Linked DNA regions of Homo sapiens. The protein of the gene in region 2 interacts with the protein of the main gene of each other region in a pairwise test. Each region holds a gene or a part of one and is shown on either strand. Other genes may lie near its edges. The genes, in order: PHYH, FAM9B, DNAJC15, RUBCN, CCDC116, CWF19L2 and UBE2E2.

What was found.
Region 1: the proteins of FAM9B (region 2) and PHYH interact in binary tests that used the Homo sapiens proteins (3 or more experiments, as listed by UniProt).
Region 3: the proteins of FAM9B (region 2) and DNAJC15 interact in binary tests that used the Homo sapiens proteins (3 or more experiments, as listed by UniProt).
Region 4: the proteins of FAM9B (region 2) and RUBCN interact in binary tests that used the Homo sapiens proteins (3 or more experiments, as listed by UniProt).
Region 5: the proteins of FAM9B (region 2) and CCDC116 interact in binary tests that used the Homo sapiens proteins (3 or more experiments, as listed by UniProt).
Region 6: the proteins of FAM9B (region 2) and CWF19L2 interact in binary tests that used the Homo sapiens proteins (3 or more experiments, as listed by UniProt).
Region 7: the proteins of FAM9B (region 2) and UBE2E2 interact in binary tests that used the Homo sapiens proteins (3 or more experiments, as listed by UniProt).

Annotation. Positions count from the first base shown.
Region 1 is NC_000010.11:13,286,565-13,290,064, reverse strand, and holds part of PHYH (phytanoyl-CoA dioxygenase, peroxisomal isoform a precursor), read left to right. Parts: intron 1-1,523; coding exon 1,524-1,705; intron 1,706-3,500. UniProt on the Homo sapiens protein: Catalyzes the 2-hydroxylation of not only racemic phytanoyl-CoA and the isomers of 3-methylhexadecanoyl-CoA, but also a variety of other mono-branched 3-methylacyl-CoA esters (with a chain length of at least seven carbon atoms) and straight-chain acyl-CoA esters (with a chain length longer than four carbon atoms).
Region 2 is NC_000023.11:9,027,628-9,031,127, reverse strand, and holds part of FAM9B (protein FAM9B), read left to right. Parts: intron 1-531; coding exon of another isoform or gene 532-560; exon of another isoform or gene 561-767; coding exon 768-867; intron 868-1,709; coding exon 1,710-1,821; intron 1,822-3,161; coding exon 3,162-3,260; intron 3,261-3,500. UniProt on the Homo sapiens protein: May play a role in meiosis.
Region 3 is NC_000013.11:43,110,586-43,114,713, reverse strand, and holds the end of DNAJC15 (dnaJ homolog subfamily C member 15), read right to left. Parts: 3' UTR 501-4,128; downstream 1-500. UniProt on the Homo sapiens protein: Negative regulator of the mitochondrial respiratory chain. Prevents mitochondrial hyperpolarization state and restricts mitochondrial generation of ATP. Acts as an import component of the TIM23 translocase complex. Stimulates the ATPase activity of HSPA9.
Region 4 is NC_000003.12:197,702,405-197,705,904, forward strand, and holds part of RUBCN (run domain Beclin-1-interacting and cysteine-rich domain-containing protein), read right to left. Parts: intron 2,772-3,500; coding exon 2,688-2,771; intron 2,298-2,687; coding exon 2,138-2,297; intron 1,251-2,137; coding exon 1,144-1,250; intron 1-1,143.
Region 5 is NC_000022.11:21,631,498-21,635,559, reverse strand, and holds the start of CCDC116 (coiled-coil domain-containing protein 116), read right to left. Parts: upstream 2,801-4,062; 5' UTR 2,733-2,800; intron 2,581-2,732; exon of another isoform or gene 2,577-2,580; coding exon of another isoform or gene 2,379-2,576; coding exon 2,307-2,378; intron 1,539-2,306; coding exon 990-1,538; intron 876-989; coding exon 294-875; coding exon of another isoform or gene 1-293.
Region 6 is NC_000011.10:107,426,826-107,430,325, forward strand, and holds part of CWF19L2 (CWF19-like protein 2), read right to left. Parts: intron 2,627-3,500; coding exon 1,974-2,626; intron 1-1,973.
Region 7 is NC_000003.12:23,209,827-23,213,326, reverse strand, and holds part of UBE2E2 (ubiquitin-conjugating enzyme E2 E2), read right to left. Parts: intron 1-3,500.

The DNA.
Region 1 (3,500 bases), on a different chromosome or scaffold from region 2:
ACTCCTGACCTCAGGCAATCTACCCGGCTCAGCCTCCCAAAGTGCTGGGATTACCGGCGTGAGCCACCGTGCCCGTCCTGTTTTGTGTGTTTTTTTTTCTTTTTCTTTTCTTTTTTTTTTTTTTTTGAGACAGAGTCTCACTCTGTCGCCTAGGCTGGAGTGCAGTGGTGCGATCTTGACTCACTGCAACCTGCTGCCTCCTGGGTTCAAGCGATTCTCCTGCCTCAGCCCTCAGCCTTCCAAGTAGCTGGGAGTACTGGTGTGCACCACCATGCCCAGTTAATTTTTGTATTTTTGTAGAGACGAGGTTTCATCATGTTGGCCAGGCTGGTCTCAAATTCCTGACCTCAAGAGAGCTGCCTGCCTCAGCCTCCCAAGGTGCTGGGATTACAGGTGTGAGCCACTACACGTGGCTTAGAACTTTTTTTGACATCAGCCACTTCAAAGGGGATTTCAAACTTGACTCCATATCACTCTCTTCAATGTAATTAATGCAACTGGTTTTTGAACATGCATTACTGCATGCTAGGTACTGTGCCCAATCCAGGGTCACAAAAGAATAAAGCACAAGGCCGGGCGTGGTGGCTCACGCCTGGAATCCCAGCACTTTGGGAGGCCGAGGCGGGCGGATCACGAGGTCAGGAGATCAAGACCATCCTGGCTAACACAGTGAAACCCCGTCTCTACTAAAAATACAAAAAATTAGCCGGGCGTGGTGGCGGGCGCCTGTAGTCCCAGCTACTCGGGAGGCTGAGGCAGGAGAATGGCGTGAACCTGGGAGGCGGAGCTTGCAGTGAGCCGAGATCGCGTCACTGCACTCCAGCCTGGGCAGCAGAACAAGACTCCGTCTCAAAAAACAATAACAACAAAGAATAAAGCACAACAGAGATGAGGATGTTATACCGCTTGCTGGAAAATAGTGTGCATAAGTACTTAGCTACCAGCAACCCGGAAGAAGGGAGTGCGGGATTTGAAGATGTGGAGCCAGTGTGTTGATTTCCAATTTGGTGTTTATCTCTCCGGGGCTGATTTTCTCTAGCATTATTTCATTTGTTTGGTTCTTCTGGGGACAGGTCATTGTTTTTTCAGGCAAAGGATAAGAATTCTGAGACCAGCTTTTTTTTTTTTTTTTTTTTTTTTTTGGTTGGGGGTGGGGGACAGGGACTCGCTCTCTGTCACCCAGGCTGTAATGCAGCAGTGCAATCATAGCTCACTGCAGCCTCGACCTCCAGGCTCAGGTGATCCTCCCACCTCAGCCTCCCAAGTAGCTGTGACTACAGGTGCATGCCACCACACCCGGCTAGTTGTTTTTGTTGTTTTGTTTTGTTTTGTTGTTTTGTTTTCTGTAGAAACGGAGTCTCACTGTGTTTCCCGGGATGGTTTTGAACTCCCAGGCTCAAGCCATCCATCTGCCTCAGCCTCCCACTTTGGGATATATTTTTATATCCCAAAGTGCTGGGGTTACAGGCGTGAGCCACTGCACTCGGCCTCGAGTATCCTTTAGTAGCAGGTTTTCTTTTCAGGCAAGAAGACGTCCCGTCACCCCCTGCACCAGGACCTGCACTATTTCCCCTTCAGGCCCAGCGATCTCATCGTTTGCGCCTGGACGGCGATGGAGCACATCAGCCGGAACAACGGCTGTCTGGTTGTGCTCCCAGGCACACACAAGGGCTCCCTGAAGCCCCACGATTACCCCAAGTGGGAGGTAGGTCTGCCCGGCGGCTGAGTCTTGATCCGAATCTCCTTCGCAGTTTCTGTTTCACATCAGTACCTCTAAAGAGTTTACAAATGAGATGGCATTTCCTTTCTGAGCAAAACATTGTCCTAAGATTTGCAGTGAGGATCAGAGAAAGTTCAAGGATGTCAGAGAAAACATTCATCACACCTATTTTCAACACTTTTTTTGTTTGTTTGTTTTTGAGACAGGGTCTTGCTCAACTCACTGCAACCTCCAACTCCCAGGTTCAAGCCATCCTCCCGCCTCAGTCGCCCTAGTAGCTGGGACTACGGGTGTGCACCACCACGCCCGGCTAATTTTTGTGGTTTTAGTAAAGACAGGGTTTTGCCATGTTGGCCAGGCTGGTCTTGAACTCCTGACCTCAGGTGATCTGTTCACCTCGGCCTCCCTAAGTGCTGGGATTAAAGGCATGAGCCACTGTACCTGCCCTTAACACGTGTTTGAAAGCCAGCCAAGGTGGGGAGCTTGGGTAGGTACTGTATAGGATCCGAGATTGTAAGTCCTAGCTGCAGAGGTAAGACATAAACCCTTCGACCCCAGATGTGTGTGGTAGACACCAAGTCAGTCTTACTCACTAACTGATGGCTCTCAGAGTAAGGAAGGAGAGATTGTCTCCTTGCAACTGCAGAGACCAGCAAAGGATCTGGGGAGGCTGGTGTCTGACCTGAGCCTTGCAGGACAGTGTACAATGTCCCATAGGGAAGAGTCGATATAGGAAGGCACAAGGTCAAGGGCAAGCCTGAACTTGACCAAAGAACAGGAAAGACCCAGGGAGCTTGCAGTCTAGATGGGCTGGGCGCTGGGGGTGTATTTTGGGGAGCAGCAGAGGAGGTGAGCCCAAAAATGTACATTAGGACCAGATTAGAAAAGACTGTTTTACTAACAAGTCTGCAGTTTATTTGGGGGAAGAATGGGAACTTTTTAGTTCAAACTTTTAGGAAGATCGAAGACCCTTTTTGTTTTTTTGTTGTGTTTTGTTTTGTTTTGTTTTTGAGGAGTCTCACTCTGTCACCAGGCTAGAGTGTAATGGCACGTTCTCGGCTCACTGCAACCTCTGCCTCCTGGGTTCAGGTGATTCTCCTGCCTCAGACTCCCGAGTAGCTGGGATTATAGGCGCGCACCACCACACCCAGCTAATTTTTGTATTTTTAGTAGAGACGGGATTTCACTATGTTGGCCAGGATGGTCCTGATCTCTTTAACTCGTGATCCGCCCACCTCTGCCTCCCAAAGTGCTAGGATTACAGGCGTGAGCCACCACACCTGGCTGAAGAGCTTTTAATTAAAAAACAAACAATTAAACAAATAAACAGTTTCATTGAGGTATAATTGTCATGTAAATTGTACATATTTTGCATGTATAATTTGATCATTTTCCACACACACATACCTGTGAAATCATCACCACAATCAAGATACTCCATCCTTCTCCCTGCTCTAGGCAACCACTGAGCTGCTTTCTGTTACTGCAGGTTAGTTTGCATTTTCTAAAATGTCATAGACATGTAATCACATAGTATAGATTTTTTTGTCCCGTTCTGGCTTCCTTCACTCAGTGTAGTGATTTTGAGGTTCATTGATGCTGTTGTGTATGATAGTAGTTTTTTGTTGTTTTTTTTTTTTTTTTTGAGACAGAGTCTCACTCTGTCACCAGGCTGGAGTGCAGTGGCACGATCTTGGCTCACTGCAACCTCCGACTCCCTTGTTCCAGCAATTTTCCTGCCTCAGCCTCCCGAGTAGCTGGGACTACAGGCACAAGCCAC
Region 2 (3,500 bases):
GTATGTAAAAAATATTTGCATTGTGGTACAAATCTTTTATGATTGCTGAAAATTATTCTTAGCAATTGATGGTAGAGCTCTGATGTGAAATCATGTTTAGGAAAGCATTCCTTGCAGTATTACAGTTTTCTGAAACACAGCACTATGGGTACAAATGTCATAAAAAGCTCCAAGAAAACATTTCAAAAGTGTTTTTGAATGTATTTCTTTACCTAAACCTAAATTTTTATACTCATGGCCATTGCTTCTTTTATTAAAATACAGTTAATAGCATCAATCACTAGATTGCTTAAAAATGCTTTTCTTATTGTGCATTAAGTTATTTCTACCCTTTTGAGGGTTCTATTATATAAGATACTTTTTTGTGTGCTTTACGTAATGAATTGTGCAGTATTTCATGGAAGCATCTCCTTTGAATTGTAGGACATTTTATAAATGTAGAAATTAAAGTCTGTGCTTATAACTCTTTCTGCACATTTAAAAAATAGAGACTTTTAATTATTTGCTTTTTTTCATCATCTGTCAATTAAGTGATTTTCAGTTATACCAACTGGAATTGAAATGCGAATGTTAATACCTGAAAGGTTTTACAGAAAATAAGTGAGTAAATCTTGCTTTTTGAAATGATCTTTGCATTTTATATTTTAAATATCCTTCTGAAATTGCTGAACCATAAAGTCCCATATTGATGTCAGTATATGCAAAGAAACTACTTTTCAACATTAACTTTTAATCCATTTTCATTTACTATCTAACTGACATTAAAGAGGATCTTACTGCAAAAAGAAAAAGGATGAAAATGGATAAAACTTGCAGCAAAACAAAGAACAAAAGTAAACATGCTTTGAGAAAAAAGCAACTTAAAAGGTATGACTGTTGGCTTTTTTGCATAATGATATTTATATCATTTCTTTGTATTAGTTGGTGCAAATAATTTCAAAAACTATCCTGTACATATTGGCGTCTCTAGTGAACAACATATTTTACTTGATTGTTCTCTAAGTAGGTAAGTTTCTTTAGTTTTATAACCTCAGTTTAACAGAATTAAGAGATATTACCTAGAAGCCAATGAAGATGACCTCTTTTTGCCTTCCAGATAAAAATAGCCTTCTTGTAAAATTAATGTTTATCCATTTCTAGAAATATGGTAGCTGCATATAAGATAAATGTTCTCAATGTTTAGTCTGTAGATCCTTAACGATACTCAATTATGTAGAAAGGGATAACCTTATGTTGTAAATAAGTTATCTATTTTAGTTAAATTGTTTTCACTATTTCTTTTACAAAATCATTGGTGTGCCAAAGTGGAGAAATAGTTAAGTGAAGTTTTTCTTTTGGGAAATCTTATGGGATGAATGGCTATGATATTCTTGAACCTACTTATGAGAACCCATATGTTATTCAGTAAGAGGAAATGGAAAGTAAACTGCTCTTAGAGAAAATGTTTCTGGGAAAGTTATAGTGCAGTAAACCCTCCTTTGTCTTCAGCAGGTAAAGAATGTAAGATAGCTGCTCTAGTAGTCAGGAAGAAAAGAATCCTTTCAAAATGAGAGTAACTCATTTCACTTTTTTCCAAAAAGAAGATTTCAGCTGCTATTACTCCCTTGCTACTTTATAGTATAAATTATGTCAAGTCAGTTTGGGTTTGAATAGGATTAATTTTTCATCTCTCTATGACGTATGACCGTGTTACTTATTATGTGTTACAGGCAGAAACGTGATTATATACATTCTCTGAAGTTGCTAAATGTCCTTGAAGAATACATCACAGACGAGCAGAAAGAGGAAGAAGAAGAAGAGGGAGAAGAGGAAGAACTAATTGTTGGTATCATGCTTAGCTTTATGTATAACCTGTTATGTCAGTGTCTCAGGTAGTAATAGTTCATGCAGAAATCCAGCAAAGAAGGAAGAGCGCATGAGCCCAGAGAGGGGGGCCCGTTAGTGGACTAATGGACTAGGGGAATATAATTGCCACGCAGCATTAGGGGTCCAACTGAAGTCAGCATCATAACGATGAAGAAGTTAAAGTAAGCCCAGTTGGCATATTTGTGCAAGCACAGCTGTAGGGTTGGAATTTCCTGGGTCGGGGTGTAGCCGAGCAGATTGATAGAGGGAGAGTTGGGCAGGGAATAGATGCAGAGATGGGGATATGATGACTGGCTGTGGAATTTCAGCTGGGACTGAGTTATCTGAGCACACGGGAGTGGGCAATGGGCAGTAAAAAGTGCTCCATTCAGTGGGTGTCAGGTCCCAACAGACTCCTGAGCTGTAGTACTGAAGTGAGTGACCTACGATGGCAGGGAGGTAGTGGCTGTATGTTGGGAAGTTGGAGAAACAGCTGAGTGCAGTGGTCAAGGGCTGGGACTATGCATCCACACTGCTTGGGATTCTAGCTTGACCATTGCTAGCTCGGAAACCATGGAAAAATTATTTATCTCAGCTTGACCATTGCTAGCTCGGAAACCATGGGCAAATTATCTTATCTACGAAAGGAGACATGGTAAGAGTACCTACGTCAGAGTTGTTTGGAGGATCAAAGGGTTTCTGTGTAACAGGTTTATTTAAGTTTTTCAGGATGTGATCTGACCCATGGTTGCTCTTTATCATTGCTATTATTAATATTACGTAGGTGTTGAAGTCATTGGGAATGACAAAATCTAGGGGATGACTGTGTGAGTGAGTGCCACGTAGAGGAGAGGAGAACACTGTTGTTGGAGATTAGGTCAGGGTGCAGAAAGGCAATCATTATTGGGTGGTTCATCTATGTGCATATTGAAATGACCGAGATTTAATACATGCTTAAAATCTTAGAAAGAATTTTTCTTAGTTAATTTCTGTATAGATCTTACCTATCTGTGGTCAACAAATTATAGGAAGGTTCATCAAATACTCTTCATTGGAAATCAAGAATTAGGACATATGTGTTGAATGTGTAAAAGTAAGAAAATTCTTTACTTAATGACTGATAAAAAAGGTTAATACATCATTTTAGCATGTTATTGGTGAACACAATTGTTTAAAATTGGTCCTAAATGTTGTCTAAAAGAAAGTGTTCAGAGGTATTGATTTAAACAGTATTCCTTTAAAGCTAATGCAGAATTATGTTTTGTAAGTATTAAAATTTACCCAATTTTTATCACTATTTTGTTTTGGGATTCTAGAGAATATTTCAAGAACAACAGAAGAAGTGGCAACAATATAGAAGTGTTAGGAGAGAGAGGCTGAAAGAGATGAAGCTGCTACGTGACCAATTCGTAAAGGTCTGTTCTATTTGGTAACATAATACATTATAAAATACAACACGTGCATAATAGAAGACAGTCTGCTTGTTTCTGAATGTATGGAAAGACATTTGATTATACATTTCAAATTACTTAGCATTTTCACTTTGAATGTATTGTTCCAGATATAATATAATTGGTAAATGTATTTTTAGGATTCATGAATAGTTTGTGGGAGTTATTTAGAACAGGAAAAGGTAAATTGGAAATTTTACCTAG
Region 3 (4,128 bases), on a different chromosome or scaffold from region 2:
GATGTGTCAGCATTTCTATTACCATTGCCTATGTTTAGAGTTCTTTATGCAGTCAAAAGTGCTAAGGCCAAAAATTGATATGAAGATAACAGAGGCAAGATATAAGTAAATAAACCAAGGAACTAGGCACTTTTCTTTGGTATTTGCATTACAACATAAATATAAAAATCAATTTAAAAGTATTGTTGGGCTGATTTCTATTTTTTCCCTTCTTTATTTTGGTATGAGAGGTAAAAATCCAAGTTTCAATAATGGCTTCTGAGAAAATTCACATGTCTATGATTTGGGTTTCTAACAGTTGCTTTTAAAAGTGAACCAATCGATACTGTGTCCTGAGGGACAACTGGGCTGAGCATCTCATGAGGAAGTAAAGGGAAGTGTAGAAAAAGTGAAAGACTAAGATAGACTTTCAATAAATAAAAGAGTTCACAATGTAGATGAAGTTGTACAACACATGAGGTGTTCTTCAAGAATTATACAACAGAAAAATTGAGTGTAAATTCAATTTTAGCAGATTAGGTTTTATTTTAACTGCATCGGGAAAACCACATAGATAAAACTATCTTATTGTTTATCCTTTACAATTTTAAAGCAAAACAAACACAACAGCATTTTATTTATTTAATTGTAGTGCATCCGTATTTTCACATATTGGATTTTAAAAAATCTCTGCTTACAAGAAGAAACGAAAGCCCAAACAAGAATGTAGTATGTAAGCGAGTACAAAATGAGATAGAGTAGAAGGCAAACTGATTACCTAAGTCCCAAGAAGTCAGGAAACAAAGTGTAACTCAGATCCAAGCAGGGTTAACCAGGAAAGGCTGCATTTCTGTGTGTACCTGCTGCTTTCTTCAGCACTGCACTGTACAACATTCTGGGGCAGCCTGAGAGATGCAGACTATACAAATATAGTCTCACATCTCACCACCAAAGCACAAACATTCCAGAGGCATGGAAGCCAAAGTGTAAACACTTCTGCAGTCAACTCTTAACTATTCACATTTACAGAAGGAAAGAGCAAAGGCACCACTAATCCAAGAATAGATAAATGGAAAGATCACTGAGTTAGCTTTGGAATACACTCTTGCATATAGGTGTATCCATGTTCAAGGAACTCACAAGTCTGTTATGAATATTAGTCATAAGGAGTTAGAAACTTTCTCCAGGAGTCAGAAACCTTTTCACCATTTATTACAGCTACTGGAAATAGAGAATTAACTGGACAATCTCAAAGACACATTCTTAGACTGGTAACTAAAGTTCCATTGACTCCACCAGACAACTATAGAACTATACACAATTTTGGAATTTGGCAAAAAAAGTATGGCATGGACAAATAACCCTGTTCAAAATTGAAAATAAACAGCAGGAAACAATTTTTAAGAATTCTATAAAAGTACTGAAATTCCCTTTCAATTGCTGCAAGTTACCTCATTTCAGTTGTCTTGTTTTCATTGCCTCTCTGCTCCTTTCAATATATTCGGTTTTCTTGTTTTCATCTTTAATACACTGAGCTCTCTCTTCATTTCTTGTGCCAGGTCTGCTGCTTCACCTTCATGAGCTGTCTTCAGAACCTTGCTCTGGATGTTCTCCTTGAAAGCTCTTGTCCATGAACATTTCAGATAAAATCTTATCAAAGCTTCCTCCGTCATCACTCTGAGTCAAAGAAAGTCACTCTGCTAAACTTTACAACAGAACTTTTGCTATGTGCACTTGGATGGACATCGTAAGCTTCCAGGGAAGAATTAAAGAGATTAGGTACTCCTTGCCCATGATGCACAATGACACTGGATCCTTTCGTAAACCTAATTTCACATTTATAATCCCAGGTCACATGCATCAAAAAATGAGCCAAAAGTCATACAAGCCCCTTCATTCTGATTCCCACATATTTAGAATGAGTGCAATATAATATAAACAGCATGCGATTCAGAGTCTGAATTTGGTTCCTAGTGCCACCACTTACTGGCTATGTAATCTTGGAAAAGATCCTAAACTCCTCTGAGCCTGTTTCTTAACCTGTAAAATGGGGATACATAATAGTACCTCTTAGGCTGGCTATGAAAATCAAGGTAACATAGGTAGAATGTTTGGCACAGGTACTAAACGTTAGCTAATATTATTAATGCTTTTCTTAAAATGAACTTATTCTAATTATTGGCTTTTAGCATTATAGTTTAGATGTCCATATTGAACCAATATCTCTATGTGATTTTTATCCTGTCATAATTGAAGTTTGCCACTGTTGATCCCCCCTGCTAAGTTGAGATACTAATTTGAAATTTATGGCCAACATCTAGCCTGAGTGATCATATTCCACCCGTGTGAAATTAAGCTCCCTCTTAATGCTGAAGATTGAGTATTTCTCTACATCTATGTAATATAGTCTGTTCAGACTTAAAATTTGGAGCAGTGCTGCTAGATACTGTTGAATCGAACAGAGAGGGAAAGGGTTATTATGGCAGGAAGAGAAATGAAGATTACTTAATGAACTTGCATTTCAATTGAGCAGGGTTTTTAATACAAAAGAAAGAGCTTTTTATAAATTCTTTTGCTCAGCAACAATAAAAAGAGGAAAAGAGCACTCAGCTGGGAACAATAGCTACTCAGCTCATAAAAAATCATTAGAAGGAACATTTTCTTTGTCCACCATGCCCAGCAATTTTGCTGGTGGGCAATTATCCAGATCACTTAGGTTCCACCTATAAAAATGAGTCCAGAGAACCTTCTCAACTTTTCCAGCTAATAAATTATGCTAACAGAAGTCCTCATCTCTTAATGTGTGTAATGCCACCATAAATAAAATTTTGACTCATAATTCATGGAATGTTTTTGACAAGTAGATGATACTGATCCAGCCATTAATAGGATTTGCTCTTTGGGTTGCTTTTCCATTAGAAGGGACGGACTATGCTGACACATTTACTCATTCCCATCAAATCCTCCTTGCAGCCAGGAGCCTCCATCTAGTTGATGACTGTTGGGCGAGGTGCAGGGTGCCCGAGGACAGCATGGTTCCACTGTGTGAAATTGGCTGGTGTACTTGGATATTTAACTTTTCACTGCAGTCTCCGTAGCTCATCTTAAGTTGGTTGACTCAAGAGAAACTTCATATTCTTGACGTAAAGAGCCTGGCTGATTCATCTTCTCCCACAAATGGTATTAAACCATATTAAGCTAATTGTCAAGTGTGTTCAATTACCTTATCAATAAAAGCTCTTTTCTGTGTTCAAGGTTCCCCAGGACAACCAAAAGATTTCTGCACATGAATAAAATATATTATTTCTAATGATGCTGCTGGGTGATCAATCATAAGCACGCCCATTAATGCAACTCTTATATGTCTTGTTAATTAAAAAGTATGAAGGAAAAAGTTTCCTGTTTAAGAATGTATTTTTTTCAGTTTGAACATGTTGCACATTTTAAGAATGAATTTATATCTTTACTGCCTGATATAGTAAGTATTCAATATTTGCTGAATGTCTAAAATATATTTCATAAAAAGTAAAGTGCTTTGAAGACTAAACAATGTATTCCAAGCCCAACATTTTTTCCTTACTAAACTTCCCTCCACTTTTGACTTTACGCTGAAGACTGGCACCATCAACTAAAATCTAAATAGCTTTCTATGTTCCCCTTGAATTAACTGTCCTTGACTTACACTTTCTCTGCAATCGGAATTGTTTTATTTTTAAAAGGCCTTCCTAGGCCCTCAGATTGCATCTAAGATGTAAGTATGCACAGAAACTGCAATATCAACAGAGCTTAATTAAGCAGAATATGCAATGACAGCAAATATGCAAGCGCAATCTTTACTGAAGACAGGTAACCACTCAAATAAGCTTTTTACAGATAAGGAGTTGGGGGGAGGGTGTGGCTGGTGAAAATTCAGTTTTATAAGCCTACTGCCATTTAGATAATTACTCCTGAATATCTGCAACTGTACTTGTTCACTGCAACAATAAACAAGACTGATATGATCCTTGCTCTCAGAGAGCTCATAATTCATGATATTACTTTTGCTGGATGCACCAGAAAAAGAGGGATACATTTTAACCTTCTACTATGTAGGTATAGTTGTGGAGATCTGGGGATTAGGATGGCATCTTTAGGTACAAGGGTAACAGC
Region 4 (3,500 bases), on a different chromosome or scaffold from region 2:
GTAATCCCAGCACTTTGGGAGGCCAAGGCGGGCAAATCACTTGAGGTCAGGAGATCGAGACCAGCCTGGCCAACATGGTGAAACCCCGTCTCTACTAAAAATACAAAAATTAGCTGGGCGTGGTGGCGTGCACCTGTAATCCCAGCTACTCGGGAGGCTGAGACAGGAGAATCACTTGAACCCGGGAGGCGGAGGCTGCAGTGAGCCAAGATCATGCCACTGCATTCCAGCCCAGCCTGGACAACAAAGTAAAGACTCTGTCTCAAAATAATAATAATGATAATAATTAATTAAAAGAATCTGGAGAGATAGGGGATCTGCTTCTCTAAGAAGTGGGGACTCTGATTCCATTCTAGCTAAGGCACTGACTGGAGTATTAGTGATGGGATAAGTTAATTTTAGGCAACAAATTTTCTTTGTACTATAAAATTTTCTTTACATCAAAGAAAAAAACATGAAAAAACTGACCCCGTGTAACATTAAGCTATGCCAGGTCTGACACTAAACTCTATCCGATTCAAAACCATCCCTCTTTTCCCCAGATCTTTGTCAAGGCTTGGTATCCTTTGTCAAAAGATACCACAGGTTTAACAAAATCTACCTCCCCACTCCCCAGCTTAGGTCTACTAAGCACACGACCTAAGCCTAGACTTTCTACTTCAATAGGTACTTAACAGTACCTCCCCTCCTCCAAGCATTTTAAATGAAAGCTGGCCGGGCGCGGTGGCTCAGGCCTCTAATCCCAGCACTTTGGGAGGCCGAGGCGGGAGGATCACGAGGTCAGGAGATCGAGACCGTCCTGGCCAACATGGTGAAACTCTGTCTCTGCTAAAAATACAAAAAAATAGCTGGGTGTGGTGGCGGGCGCCTGTAATCCCAGCTACTCGGGAGGCTGAGGCACAAGAATCGCCTGAACCCAGGAGATAGAGGTTGCAGTGAGCTGAGATTGCACCACTGCACTCCAGCCTGGGAAACAGAGCGAGACTCTGTCTCAAAAAAAAAAAAAAAAAAAAAAAAAAAAAAAAAAATGCAAGCCTTTCAGCTCACAAAAATGGCTAAGTGAAAAAGTTTGCTGTAGAGGGCTACATCCTGCTGAGCTCCAGGGACCCAGCATAGACGTGGATAATTCCTTGTCCCCTGTACCATGGACGCATCGATCTGAGCCAGGAGGCGGGGGTTGTTCTGTTCCACTGCTTCCAGGCACTGCAGCATGGCCGTGACATGAGCGTCACTTAGCAGGAAGGCAGCATCTGGGGAGAGAAAAGCTGCCACAGTGATAGAGCCCATCAGGGAGGCCTTGAGAGAAGCTTGAGGAAGCAGAAAGGGAGAGGTAAGGATGAATGAGGAGGAGGGTGAAGGCAGATCAGAAACAAAGTAGAGGAGAAGCTGAAGAACGCGAGGTGCAGCAAAATGGCCAGGGCAAGAGGCTTCAACGTCAGAAAAATCCAGATTTGAATCCTGGCTCTGAGTGACTTTGGCCAAGTCGCCTAACCTCCTGGAGCCCTGTGGATTGGAAACAGTAGCACCAATGCCCAACTCTCGGGGCTGCTGTGAAGATACTGGACAGCAGTGACGGGCACACAGGAAACTCGTGGTAAATGGTGGCTATTCTTACGGTTTGTGTGTGTGGCCGTAGGGGACGACCTTAACATAAAGCTGGATTGTGTCTTACTTGGGAGGTGAGAGGTAAGTCTGGATATATGTTTCTGAGTAGAATCCCTATGGCATCAAGTGAAAAACAGGAGGCCCTGCCGGGCACGGTAGTCACGCCTGTAATCCCAGCACTTTGGGAGGCCAAAGCGGGCAGATCACCTGAGGTTGGGAGTTCGAGACCTGCCTGACCAACATGGAGAAACCCCATTTCTACTAAAATTACAAAATTAGCTGGGCATGGTGGCACATGCCTGTAATCCCAGCTACTCAGGAGGCTGAGCCGGGAGAATTGCTTGAACCCAGGAGGCGGAGGTTGCAGTGAGCCGAGATCACGCCATTGCACTCCAGCCTGGGTGACAAGAGCGTAAGTCCATCTCAAAGAAAAAAAGAAAAATAGGAGGCCCTGGTACCAGAGGGGTAGAGGATAGTGAGGTGGGTGACAACGAGGAAGCACAGATGACAGTCCTAAGTGGCCTCTACCTACCTGTGTAGAATTTTCTGATATACTGTCTATCCCCGAGCAGGGGCCGGAGCTGGGCTGAGAGGCAGTGGTACTGCAGGCTGTGCTGCAGCCACAGCTCGGCAACAGCACGTTCACTGGCACCATCAGCACTGCTCTGGTCGTTCTCGTGCACGCTGATGAACTGGGAAGCAAAGGGGCATGAGTCAAAACACACATCCTGGTAGATACGGCAAGATTGAGGCCTAATGACCTGAGAACTAAATTGAGACAGGTAAGGGAAATGCTTTGAAAGGCTTCACCCTGGGTCCCATGTAGGCAGGCTTTTTTGAAAATAGCAAAACTTTTTTTCCCTTCCCCAGAGGAGAAAAAGTGGCCTGGACCAATGGGTTTGCATGTTTTTTTTTTTTAAGCAAATAAAGTCAGTCCCTACAGGGATAATTAATTTCCTTTCCTCAGCTGATAGGCAACTGGACATATTCCCTCCTTGGAGCCTAGAAGATTCTTCTGACAGAGCCTCAAACAGTGAAGACCCACAGCTCTGCCAGCACAGCCGCTCTGCTCTCACTCTTACCTTCTCCACGTGAAGGGCTGAGTGGGGACTGAGCCACCGGATGTCTTTCACGAACTGCCAGTAATCCGTCTGGCGGCGGCACGCCTGCAAAGGGAACACATACAATGAGCAAATCACGACCATTCTGGACCAGATCTAGTTCTAGGGTTGGCATTCAAAGATAGGAAAAGGACCACAACCTTCCCTTGCCTCATCAAAGGTTCTTAGCAGCAATCAAAGGATACACACAGAGGCCAGGGGTGGTGGCTCACACCTGTAAACCCAGCACTTCAGGAGGACTGCTTGAGTCCAGGTAGACTGGCCCATCTCTACAAACAATTTAAAGCTTACCCCGAGTGGTGGGACATGCCTTAGTCCCAGCTACTCAGGAGGCTGAGGTGGGAGAATCACTTGAACCTGGGAGGTCAAAGCTGCAGTGAGCCATGATTGTGCCACTGCACTCCTGCCCAGGCAACAGAGTGAGACCCTAACTCAGAAAAAAAAAAAAAAAAAAGAAAAGGAATTAAAAAAAAAAAAGGAATACTACACTTGACATATGTTTACCCTTTTAAAGAATAATTGTTAAAGATTATTTTAACCATTCTTTTGAACAGGTAACATATGCATATGACATACAAGGTATACAGTAAAAATAATGTTTTCTTTTTCTTTTTGTTTGAGACAGAGTCACTCTGTCACCCAGGCTGGAGTGCAGTGGCGTGATCCAGCTCACTGCAACCTCCACCTCCCATGCTGAGGCGATTCTCATGCCTCAGCCTCCCGAACAGCTAGAACTACAGGCACATGACATCACGCCTGGCTAATTTTTGTATT
Region 5 (4,062 bases), on a different chromosome or scaffold from region 2:
GCGGGAGATGAAGAGGCAACTGGAGAGAGCTCAGGGAGAAGGTAGCAGGAAGAGCGGGGGTAGGGGGAGGAAAGTGGAGGTGTGACAGGGCCCCTGAGGTGGCCCTGGCTGCAGGCCACCTCCACCACAATCCCTGGCGTGGGCAGGGTGAGGTGCAGGCCCTGCCAGGGCTGGGCCCTCTGGCTGGAGCTCAGGGAAACAGGTGGGTTTTGTAATTTGGGATCTGAGTCAGGTGCCTCCTCCCTGGAGTGGAGTGAGGGGCTGGGGACATTGGGCTTCTCCGTGGGTGTCACCTTGAGTTTGAATCTGGTGGCCACCTGGGCACTAGACATGGAGGGGGAGCCTCCTCTGTCCTTGCGTTTTCTCTGAAGCATCTTGGGGCTGGAGACTGTGGGGCGGGGGGAAGCATAGGGCTGCCCGCCATTGGTGGGTTTAGCTGGCTCAGAGCCCAGAGGCGGCAGATCTGAGGTGGGCTCCAAGCTGGTGGGGAACAGAGGACGGCCGTCGCGGCAGTGGGCGCCACGGAGCTTATCCACAGCCTGGCTGACCACGCTTTGCAGGGCAGGGAAGAGGCGGTGGTCAGCCAGGAAGTTCAGCGTGCGATGGGGCTCACGGAGCGGACAGTAGCCAGGCAGGTCGAGGGACTCCAGCTGGCTCAGTAATGACTTGATCTCCTTATTGAACTCTCGCTTGCGGAAGATTGGCTCCTGTTCTCCAGGCCTCGGCTCTGATGCTTCAGGCACGCCAGAGCTTGAGCCCAGCAGCCCTGAGAACCAGGACAAGGGCTGCTCCTGTGTCCACTGAAAGCTGGTCTGGCTACCCAGCGAATCCCACAGCAGGGAGTCCCTCTGGGAGCAGGACTGACTGAGGCCTTTCTGCAGAAAGAGGGTGACTCTGTGAAGTGTTCAGGAGCAGCCAAGCCAGGGCTGACCCTAGCCCTGGGCTCTCCATGGGAGTCCACCCCACCCAGCCATGGCCCTGGCTCTCACCCCTTCCCTCTCCAGCTGTAGCAGCCGCTTGAGGTTCTTCTCCAGCAGGAGTTTGTCCCTCACAGGTGGCAATGAGCCTTGGGCACCTAGGTCACTGTCCCGGCTGTGGGAGCCCAGACAGCCGGCCATGAGGCTGCTATGGCAGTTGGACATGGAGCTGGAGCTGGATGGGTAGTTGTTGGGGTGTCCAGTGCAGAGGGTCGGCCGTACACGGTGCCGGTGTACGGTGCTGAGGCTGGGCCGGGCATGTGCCCGCCGTCCACCACTTGGCACCTCCACTGGGTCCTGCACCTCCACAAGCGGCACCCCAGCCTCCGTCTTCATGGCAGCCATGCGCTCAGTCGCCTTCTCCACCACTGTCTCCAGGCTGTCCAGGACCTGGCTCTCAGTTAGGAAATCCAGAAAGTGGCCAAAGGGCTGAGGGTGCCTCTTGTTTCGGCGTTGGCCCTGGAGTGCTGAGCTGCCACATGTGGATGGTGGGTGTGGCACACGGCCCGGCTTGCAGGCTGGCCGCATTTCTGGGACCAGTGGCTTCTTGGGCAGCTGCACCTGAGCAGACAGGTATGTCACAGGGGGCAGGGGTGCCCTACAGGTGAAGGGTTCCCTGGGGTAACACTAGGACCTGGGTGGGAGTGAGTAGTGGAAGGAGCTGCATTTTGGAGTCTGGAAGCCCTGGGTTTGGACCCTGGCTCTGCCACCTACAGCCTGATGCCAGTGTGCAAGATGGCCCCTCTTGAGGTCCAATGTCCTCATCTGCAAAGTGGAGGTCTATTCAGGGTCACCCCGAAGCTTTCCTAACACCTACATTTCACACACACAAGTCCTGGCTAAGGAGTCTGCAAGCCTGCTTCTGCCCTGACACGTGGCAGGATGAGCAATCATGAATCTCTCGGAGTCTCCCTCCAGCTCCTCATCTGTCCATGCAGCAGGCCATCCCTGTATCCATGGCAGGGCTGCAAACAACATCTGAGGTCTTGAGTGCAGACAACACCTGAGGTCTTGAGCCCTGTGCTACCCGGGCCTGTTTCTCCAACTTGAGCCATAGGCACCTAGTCAACTCCATGCTCCCACTCTAGGGTCCCAGTCCACCCAAGCACCTTCTGGGTCGCTGGAAGTCAGGAGGAAACAAGGAATGAAATTGAGTGTGACAGGGGCAAGCAGTGGGGGACATAGGAGAAGTCAAGGCAATAAGGACTTCACTAAGAGGCCCAGAGAAGTCAATAGACAATGAGAAATGGGGGTTGTGGTCTTGGGTGCCAGGGTTGGTGGGGAACATGTTGTGGCCTCAAGGGTCGGCGCCCTGCTGGGCACACTTACCCGTGCACTGCACATGGAGTGGCTGGCCTCGTCATCGGCCAGGTAACCCGAGTGGTGGCGGCACCTGGCCATGTGGTCACCTGGCAGGTGACCGGGCCTGCTGCCCACCTCTCTCTTCAGCTGCGCATTCCTCTCTGCGTGGGGTGGGGAGACAACCTGAGGGTCTCCAATAGGTCCACGCATCTGTGGCCCTGGAGTCTGCGGGTCCCTCGCTCCCCGCACCCCGCCTCCTTCATGCATCCAGCCCTTCCTCTGCTCCATGGCCCCCATGCGTCTGCAGGCAGGCAGTTTCCAGAGTCATCGGGGTGGAATCGCTGAGGACAATCCTGTCTCCGATCATCTTTGGATCTGCGTGTGCTCGACCCGCCCTCCTCCCAAACCCTGGGCAACCTGGCTTTCACCCCAGCCCAGAATCAACAGACTCACCAGAAACACCGCCTTGCTCCGCACAGGCCAGTACAGTCTGCGCCCTCACTGGAGCAGCTGCACAGTGCGAGGAAGTCGGCTGGCGGCCTCCACTTGCTTATTTGCATACCACATCCTCATTGGTTCTTACCGAGGAGCTCGTCCACTTCCCTCTCCGACACAATGGTTGGGGGCGGGGCCCACATTGGCCCCACCTCCAATTCTCTGGGCTCTGCCCTCCCACACTCGCCTGGGAGCCGCAGGCTGAGGATGCTGGTGCCCACGCTCCCCGCTGCCGGGAGGACCCCCCACCCACCACCGAAGCTGGGGCTAGGCTCTTTGATCTGCTCCTGCCCCGAGGGGAGCCTAAAAGCCAAAGCCACGTCTTCCACCGGTGGCACAAGCACCTTCCTCGTGTCCTCCTTGGTTGCTGCGCAGCCCTGGGCCTCCTGCTCCTGTTCGTTTCCAGGGGCCTCTGCCCTTCCCGCGGTGTGCACAGCCCCAGGTTCTGCCTTGAGACCTCTCCCCTCTGCAGTGGAAAGAGTGCCGGCTCTAAGTCACAGACCTAGCTTCAGTTCCTGGCTCTGCTCTTTCCTGCCAATGTGACTCAACCTCTCAGCATTAGTCCCACACTGTAAATGGGCTTGAGTGTTCTTCCAATATGGGAGTATGGGATTCAATAAAATCTCCCTACAGCACACCCAGTAACCCAGTGGAGCCTTGTGTATTCTTTAATTAATTAATTTATTTATTTGGAGACGGGAGTCTCGCTCAGTCGCCCAGGCTGGAGTGCAGTGGCGCAATCTCGGCTGACTGCAAGCTCCGCCTCCCGTGTTCACGCCATTCTCCTGCCTCAGCCTCCCGAGCAGCTGGGATTACAGGGGCCCGCCACCACGCCCGGCTAATTTTTTTGTAGTTTTAGTAGAGATGGGGTTTCACCGTGTTAGCTAGGATGGTCTCGATTCCCTGATCTTGTGATCCGCCTGCCTTGGCCTCCCAAAGTGCTGGGATTACAGACCTGAGCCACCGCGCCCAGCGGAGCCTTGTATATTCTTACCTCCTCTCCCTCCCTCCTTTTCCCCTTTGCTCAGTAATACCCCACCATGGTGTCACTTCTTCCAAAAACCTTTTACTGTGAATTCTGCCACGCCCTACGCAATTCACAGTAAACCCCATTCCAGACTCTACCATACCATGTTGCTACTTATTTTTCTATCAGATGGTGCTTCTTTGGGGCCAGAACAGAGGCAAGTCACCCTTAATCTCTAATACTTTCAGTGTCTGGCACCAAGTAGGTGCTCAATAAATGTCAGTCTCCTCCTTCCCACCTGCAGACCCTCGGGACCTCTGA
Region 6 (3,500 bases), on a different chromosome or scaffold from region 2:
CAAATACACTAAAAAATTTGGAAAGACACTACCAACACTGTTAACCTGGCAAATAGGATTAGGGTTGGAAGTGACATGAAAGGGAGATTTACTTTTTCATTTTATACTCACCTATGCTTCATATTCTTGTTTTATACTCTTCTGTCTATATTGTTTAAATTTTATACATATACATTTATTAAGATTACAAATGGCATGTTCTAAAAAATAATACTGGTGTAAATAACAAGAAAGGTAAAGATATATGAACAATACATACAAAGAAGTAAAAACTAATTCAACTAATTTTTCCAATCATGACCATTCACTTATAAGACAAAGATTATTTGTAACAACTAGGCATTCTTCAAGGTCCTGTCTTGGTCTCCTACTTTACAACCACTCTACATTCTCAGGAATCTTTTTTTTTGGATGATTCCTAGATTTTTCTTTCCCTCTCCAGCCAGTCACAGAATTCATAGAAAGCCTCAAACCCTCTGTACCATCAAATTAACACAGCGAACAAAGAATACTGTCTTCAAAGGAAAAATTACATGTATACATACATATATATACACACATATATAGCTTTTAGTGAGTGCTGTCTTCAAACCGAAAAATTATATACATACACAGCTTTTAGTGAGTGCCTGTATTATAGTGTATCTATCAGAAGCTTACAACTTAAATAAGACATACAAATATGCAGCAATCAGACAACCGGTTGGAATACTAATCGTGTGGTATTACTTTGCAGACATTTTGCTTAGCTACAGTCACAGAAGAAGGCCTACAGATCATCCAAATGCTAACCCAATCCTAATGATATCAGGAAATAAGAGCCTCATTCCCCTAGTGACTGGGAACTGGAAATAGTCTACCACCCAGGGCACCTGGAGTGAAGACTGGACAATTACATATGCATACAGCCTTAGACAATAATCCCTGCCATGTTTGTTTAGTCAATACAATTGGATTTCTCCTTCCACTTCCTGGGAGGAAAGCCCTGATGTGAACCAGAGTCCATTTGACTGGGGCTTAATCACTCAGTTCAGATTTTGCCAGCTCCCTCCCACCGAAAATTACACACTGAGTTTTATAATCCACTGCTTCAGATGGAGTCATTAACAAAAGTGATTTATCAGACTCACAACCCCAAACCACAGTGCTTTTATCTACTACAACCATGTGTTTCTATTATTTCCTAAAACCTCTTCCTTTAGTGTCCCACTCATTTGGTGCTATTTTTAAACATATTTTAATGATCATTCACGTGTAAGTTGTTACCCTTTGGACACTTTTTTTTCTGGCTATCTCCAACAGGGCCAGCAAATTTCTAAAGCAAATTTTCTTAGGTTTAGTCCCATTCAACCTGGGTTTCCTCATCTTCTAACCCAGCCCTACATAAATGCAACATATATTTTATATTTAAAACTCTAATATTATCTTTAAAATCTGTCAATTGCCCAAAGTGGATTATTTCTTTCTTTGTGCAAAATAACAACCATAATTCATGCTCCCCTCTGCAAGATCTCTGGCATGTATTTGTCACTTTATATTTGGGCCGTGGCAGCGTGTTTTCCTTTTGTCTCCTAGACTTCCTATAGACATGCAGTATTTATGATTATGATTATACTCAACAATAAGATAATTTCCTTAGAAAGTAATGGCATTGGTAACAAAATCTACCAAAATATCTCCTGCAGCACATACATTTAAAACATTAACTCATTCAGTTTTTTAAATTGCAAAGCAGCAACATATTTTGAACAAATATAGCTACTGCTTTCAGCTCTTAAAAAAAAAAAAACCTATGAAATAAAATGCAATCCATACCACAATACTGCCTGTTAAATCTGCATATCTTACCCCTTCTATCAATTTTAAGAAATGTGAGATCATAGTCACAGCTAATAACTGATGTTCTAAAAATACAGTTCTGTTCTTTGAACTCTCTGGATCTTAACTTATTAGGTTAAAAAATGATAAAATACCCAGCAAATGTAGACTTTGTATCCCGTAGATGTTCTTTTTTTGGAGGGTCATCTCTCAAGACTTCATCTTGTGATTTTTCTCTTGGGTCTTCTGGAACATGTTGGTGTTCATCAGTACTGGTTTCCGATGGCTTTTGATTTGAATGTTTCTTGTCTCCTCTCCCATCAGAGCGACTCCATGATGTTAATCTTTCTTCACTGTTCTTGGTGGGTTTTCTAAAACCACTACACAAAGAGCCCTGAGCTACCAATGCTGAAGATGAACTAAGTGGTTCAAATTTTCTGCCCTTGCTGTGAAATGACAGTTCTTCATCATCAGAGGGTCTCAAGAATTTAGCTCTCAAATTGCCAAAAGAAAACTCTTGATTTTGCCTTGGGTTAGATTCTCTTCTACACGTTTCTAAAGACCCAGGTCTCTTATCTTTTTCATCACCAATAAATTTTTCATTATTGCTATTTTTTGCAGTATCTGTTGTAGCATATCTATCCCTTGAACTGTTACCATATTTTACTAAGTCTGATTCTCTACTTTCTTGACAATTTTGTGCTTTATCTGAATATGTGGGTTTCCTCCACCGTTCCCGTCTATAATCTTCTTTCGTGGATGCAGCTTTTTCAGCATCTTCTAATTTTGACTGAAATATTTCCATTGACTACAAAGGAGAAAAATTAAACAAGATATCTAAAATTAGGAACGGCTCAGTGACTTGCACCCCACATGTCACTGTATGACTCACTGCCAAGTGGCACACTGAAAAGCCCACTAACGGGGTGAAAGAAGACCCATACAATCATCCTATACGGAAACGAATACTTTCTAAAAATGTGTAAACAATTAAAAATTATTAAATAACAAAAAGATTCCAAAAGGATAGCCAGTTACACCAAACACTCTGCACTAACACAAAGTATAACACAGAAAACAGTAGAGACAAACTTTGCAAAAAATACTTAATTCCTACTGGTTGTGAGATTCAAGAGGTTAAATTGCTAAAACAGATTCTCACCAAAAAAAAAAAAAAAAACAGAATAGTTCAAGAACAAGAAAGACTTGGAAATAAAAAATTGTGTGTCCCAAAAAGCTGCCAAGATACACCAAAAGGAAGAAAAGACAGTGCTGAAAACTAAATTAACCTGGGAATTCTCTATATTTTAGGAAAAGGTAGTAAATAAATGTAAGTTATAAGAAAAAAAGATACATGAACAATTGATTCTAGAAAATCTAATATGCATTTATTAGTACTTCCAGAAAGATGGAGCAAAGATGATGGGAATAGAGCATTAATTTTAAAAATATATAAGAAAATTTCCCCAGCCGATTTCTCAGAAGGACTCATCCAATAGCCTTGGGTGGGGGAGAAAGAAGAAAAACACAGAAAAAAACCCTAATACCTGAATCTCAAAACTCAAGGAAAAAAAAAAAAACCTTTACAAGGACTAGATCAGGGAAGGAGTGAATAAGTGTGAGCCTGTATATGGATAGGGGTAGATAAATAACAAATTATCCACAAAGGAAAGACAGACTTA
Region 7 (3,500 bases), on a different chromosome or scaffold from region 2:
TACGAAACACTCATTTTAACATCAATATATTGGGCTAAGGGTTCAGAAAAATGAAGCAGTGTATATGTACTAACATGTTTAAAACACACACATACATTTCTTGAGTTAAAGAAAATTCAAAAATTTACTGAGAGCCAAGTAGAACATGAATGTGTGGATACGCAGATTCGCAAAGTAATTTCTTAGCAGGAATTTTTTTAAAACCCTTCATCTCATCTAGACAACTTTCTATATTCCCTTACAGACTACATTCCTCAGTCAACCTAAAAACCCCTACTCTAATCAATTGAATCACCTAGCGAAAACCTTCCAAAATGAACTTATTCTCAAAAAAGCATCATGCAACTAATTATTAAAATTTTTTAAATGTCAAAGCAATCTTTAGAAAACACATTGCCATTGCAAATAAGAAGTCTAGAGTTTCATTCTAAATGGTGGTATATACTATATATCTATGATTCTGAAAGATCATTGATTTTAAGACACACCATCAATAATTGTGCACATAAATTTTAAGATGTGTCCCAATTTCAGAAACATTAAAAAGTTTTAAAATGTACTTTTAGAATGAAGAAAATACAGTAATTACAAAAGATTATCTACAAAAGTACTATTTCATTCTCATGTGGAAAACAAACTTAGACGAGCCCATATGATAAAAGTTCAAACTGGAATACAGTGGAATCAATCTTTCAACCTAACAAAAATTTAGTCTGAAACCAAAAACCATACCTCGAACAGTATCATATTGAATGTCCAAAAATAAAATCACCATGTCCACTCTAAACAGTTAATTTAGAATAAATATGATATAAAATTCACATTTACAGATGTATCAACCCGTAAAAGCAGCAGAATAAATTCAAAGAAGATCTCAAAATAGACGTTTTATTGAACTGACTAGTCAATTTAATCAAAATAATCTAAATCTGTCACTGCAGATATAGTCCAACAACAGACTTGCAAATATAACAAGAGTGATATAGACATATCAAGAGAACAGGCTGTGATAAGAGCATGACAATTTTTTAAGAAACTCTTGCCAAAGAAAAGCAAAAATGCATCTAAGATGTAACTGTAATCTTTCCTCCTAACTCTGAGACAGAAATTAATTTCTACTGCTGTTTAAATACCCACTTAAATGTTTTCTGTATTATATACCACTATTCTATAATATCACAAATGAGATTTTTCAAATCATAGTTCTATACCAGCTTATTAATTCTATAATTACTGCATTACAATTATTAATTCTACAATTATAGTACATTTCATATAATAACTGAGCACCTACGTGCAAGCACTTTTCCTAAGTCACTACAAAATGTATTTAATTACGGCATCTGAGTATTTCTAGTTTAACAATAGCATTAAGGCCTCCAAGGTTAACATATACCTCATTTTTCCAAAGTTTGTACCAAACAGACTTGAAAAATATGACCGTAGATTTTAACTGACATAAAGTCTATCAGTGACGGCATCAGTTTTGAGAGCTTACTATGTGCCAAATAAATGCTTTATCACATTTAGTCCTCACAAGAACCTTCTGAACAGCGTACCGTTATCATCTTCCTTCTACGAAAGAAGAAATCGAGGCTTTGAGCTGTTAAATTATACATCAAGATCACAGAGGCTAGGCACAGTGGTTCATGCCTGTAATTCCAACACTTTGAGAGACCAAGGCAGGAGGATCGCTTGCAACCATGAGTTCAAGACCAGCCTGAGCAACATAGTGAGACTCCCATCCCTACAAAAAATACATTAAAAATTTAACCTGGTGTGGTGACACAACCCTGTAATCCCAGCTACTTGGGAGGCTGAGGCTGGAGGACTGAATGAGCCCAGGAGTTGGAGATCATACCACTGCACTCCAGCCTGGGTGACAGAGCAAGACTCTGCCTCAAAAAAAAAAAAAAAAAGACCACAGAGCTATAGCTACTAAATGCTAGAACCTAGATTCAAACGTAGATGCTGTCTCTAGAGTTCAAGCTCTTCAATGCTACTCTTTATCTCATAAAATGACACTATTTGGGAAAGGCTTCTCATCTGAATAAAAATGATCGTCAACAAAAAAGTGTGAAATAAAATTTATTTTGAAACTACCTCTAACTTTTAATCTTCTGAACACACTAGTACTAAGATCCTAATATCCATGGAAAATCCGATCCCTATAAGAAGCTCAGGGTTCCAAGGCAGCCAGTAAATAAATACTGTGACTGTACTCTGCTAGGCACTGTGGACATGGCAGTGAACTTAAAAGATGTGGGGTCCTCTGTGCTCATAATTCCCAATTTTTTTCCTAAGTTCAGCAGAAATGGCAAAGAACCAACAACTTCACTATCAGCTGAATTGGAGGAAGAGAGAGGGGAAAATAAGGTTTTTTAAATTAAAAAATTAGTAGTGAAGCCGCATTTTTATATTTAAAATAAATAGTACATAATTACATCATTTCATACACTGTCACCCGAAAACCAACTGAAGACCTTTCTAGAGGAAGATCATGAACCACAATTTGAAAATCACAGATTCACAACAATTTGCCAATGGAGGGATTCTTTCAGCCAGGAAGCAACTCAAAAGAGACTTCCTATTTTCACCAATGCAATACAACCACTTTCTATTTACTGCCAATCAGGCACTGCGCTGCGCTCTGCACATACATTATCTCTAAACTAGGTTTTATCTCCTACATACAGTGCAGAAAAATATCTTCTATATTTTTCCCTCGTGAAATCTATCATTAGGTTTGAATAATCCGTACTTTCTCTATATACTGTAGTAAAATAAAGATGACCCACGTACTTGAAAAACTCATGTTCACACATAAAGCAGTACATCTTTCATAAGCAGAATTTGGTCTTTGACATATCACCCAAGAAATATGATTTTAAGGTATTTTATAGTGGTGCTCCCAGTTAGAGGAAAAGGCAGAGCCTCACCACAACAGGTGACTTTGCTAACTAGCAATCATAGAATAAAGCACAGGCCCAGCAGAACCCTATTCCCCACAGACCTGGCCAACCAATCCTTCCCCTTTTCTGACAAACTGAAGAGGCCCTGTAAAAACCCAATCAGACACTGAGGACTGAATTAGATCTTCCTCATCTGCGTGGAACTACAATCTGTACCTGAACATCTCCTTCCCACCTACATCGACTTCCTTCTTTCACCTAAATGTCATATTTTCTCTATTCCCCACCTTTCTCATCCATCCTAACCCCACCCCCCATTTTCCAGGTCACCTCTAAGCAGGTCATTTGTGTTGTGGTCTGGCAAACAGAAGGGTCAGCCAGCTGAGTCCCCGGTAATTGTGTTGTGATGGCAAAACAAACTGAACCCTCTTCCCCACCCTAGCATGGTCTAGTATACAGGTCTCAAAGTTTAAAGTTCAGGGCTCTCTGACTTTCAAACAGCTCCTTCAACAGAGATCAGCAATACACCCCCACGAAAGGGAAACTGAATACTCTAGTACCTTGGAATAACCACTCACCATCCCTCCA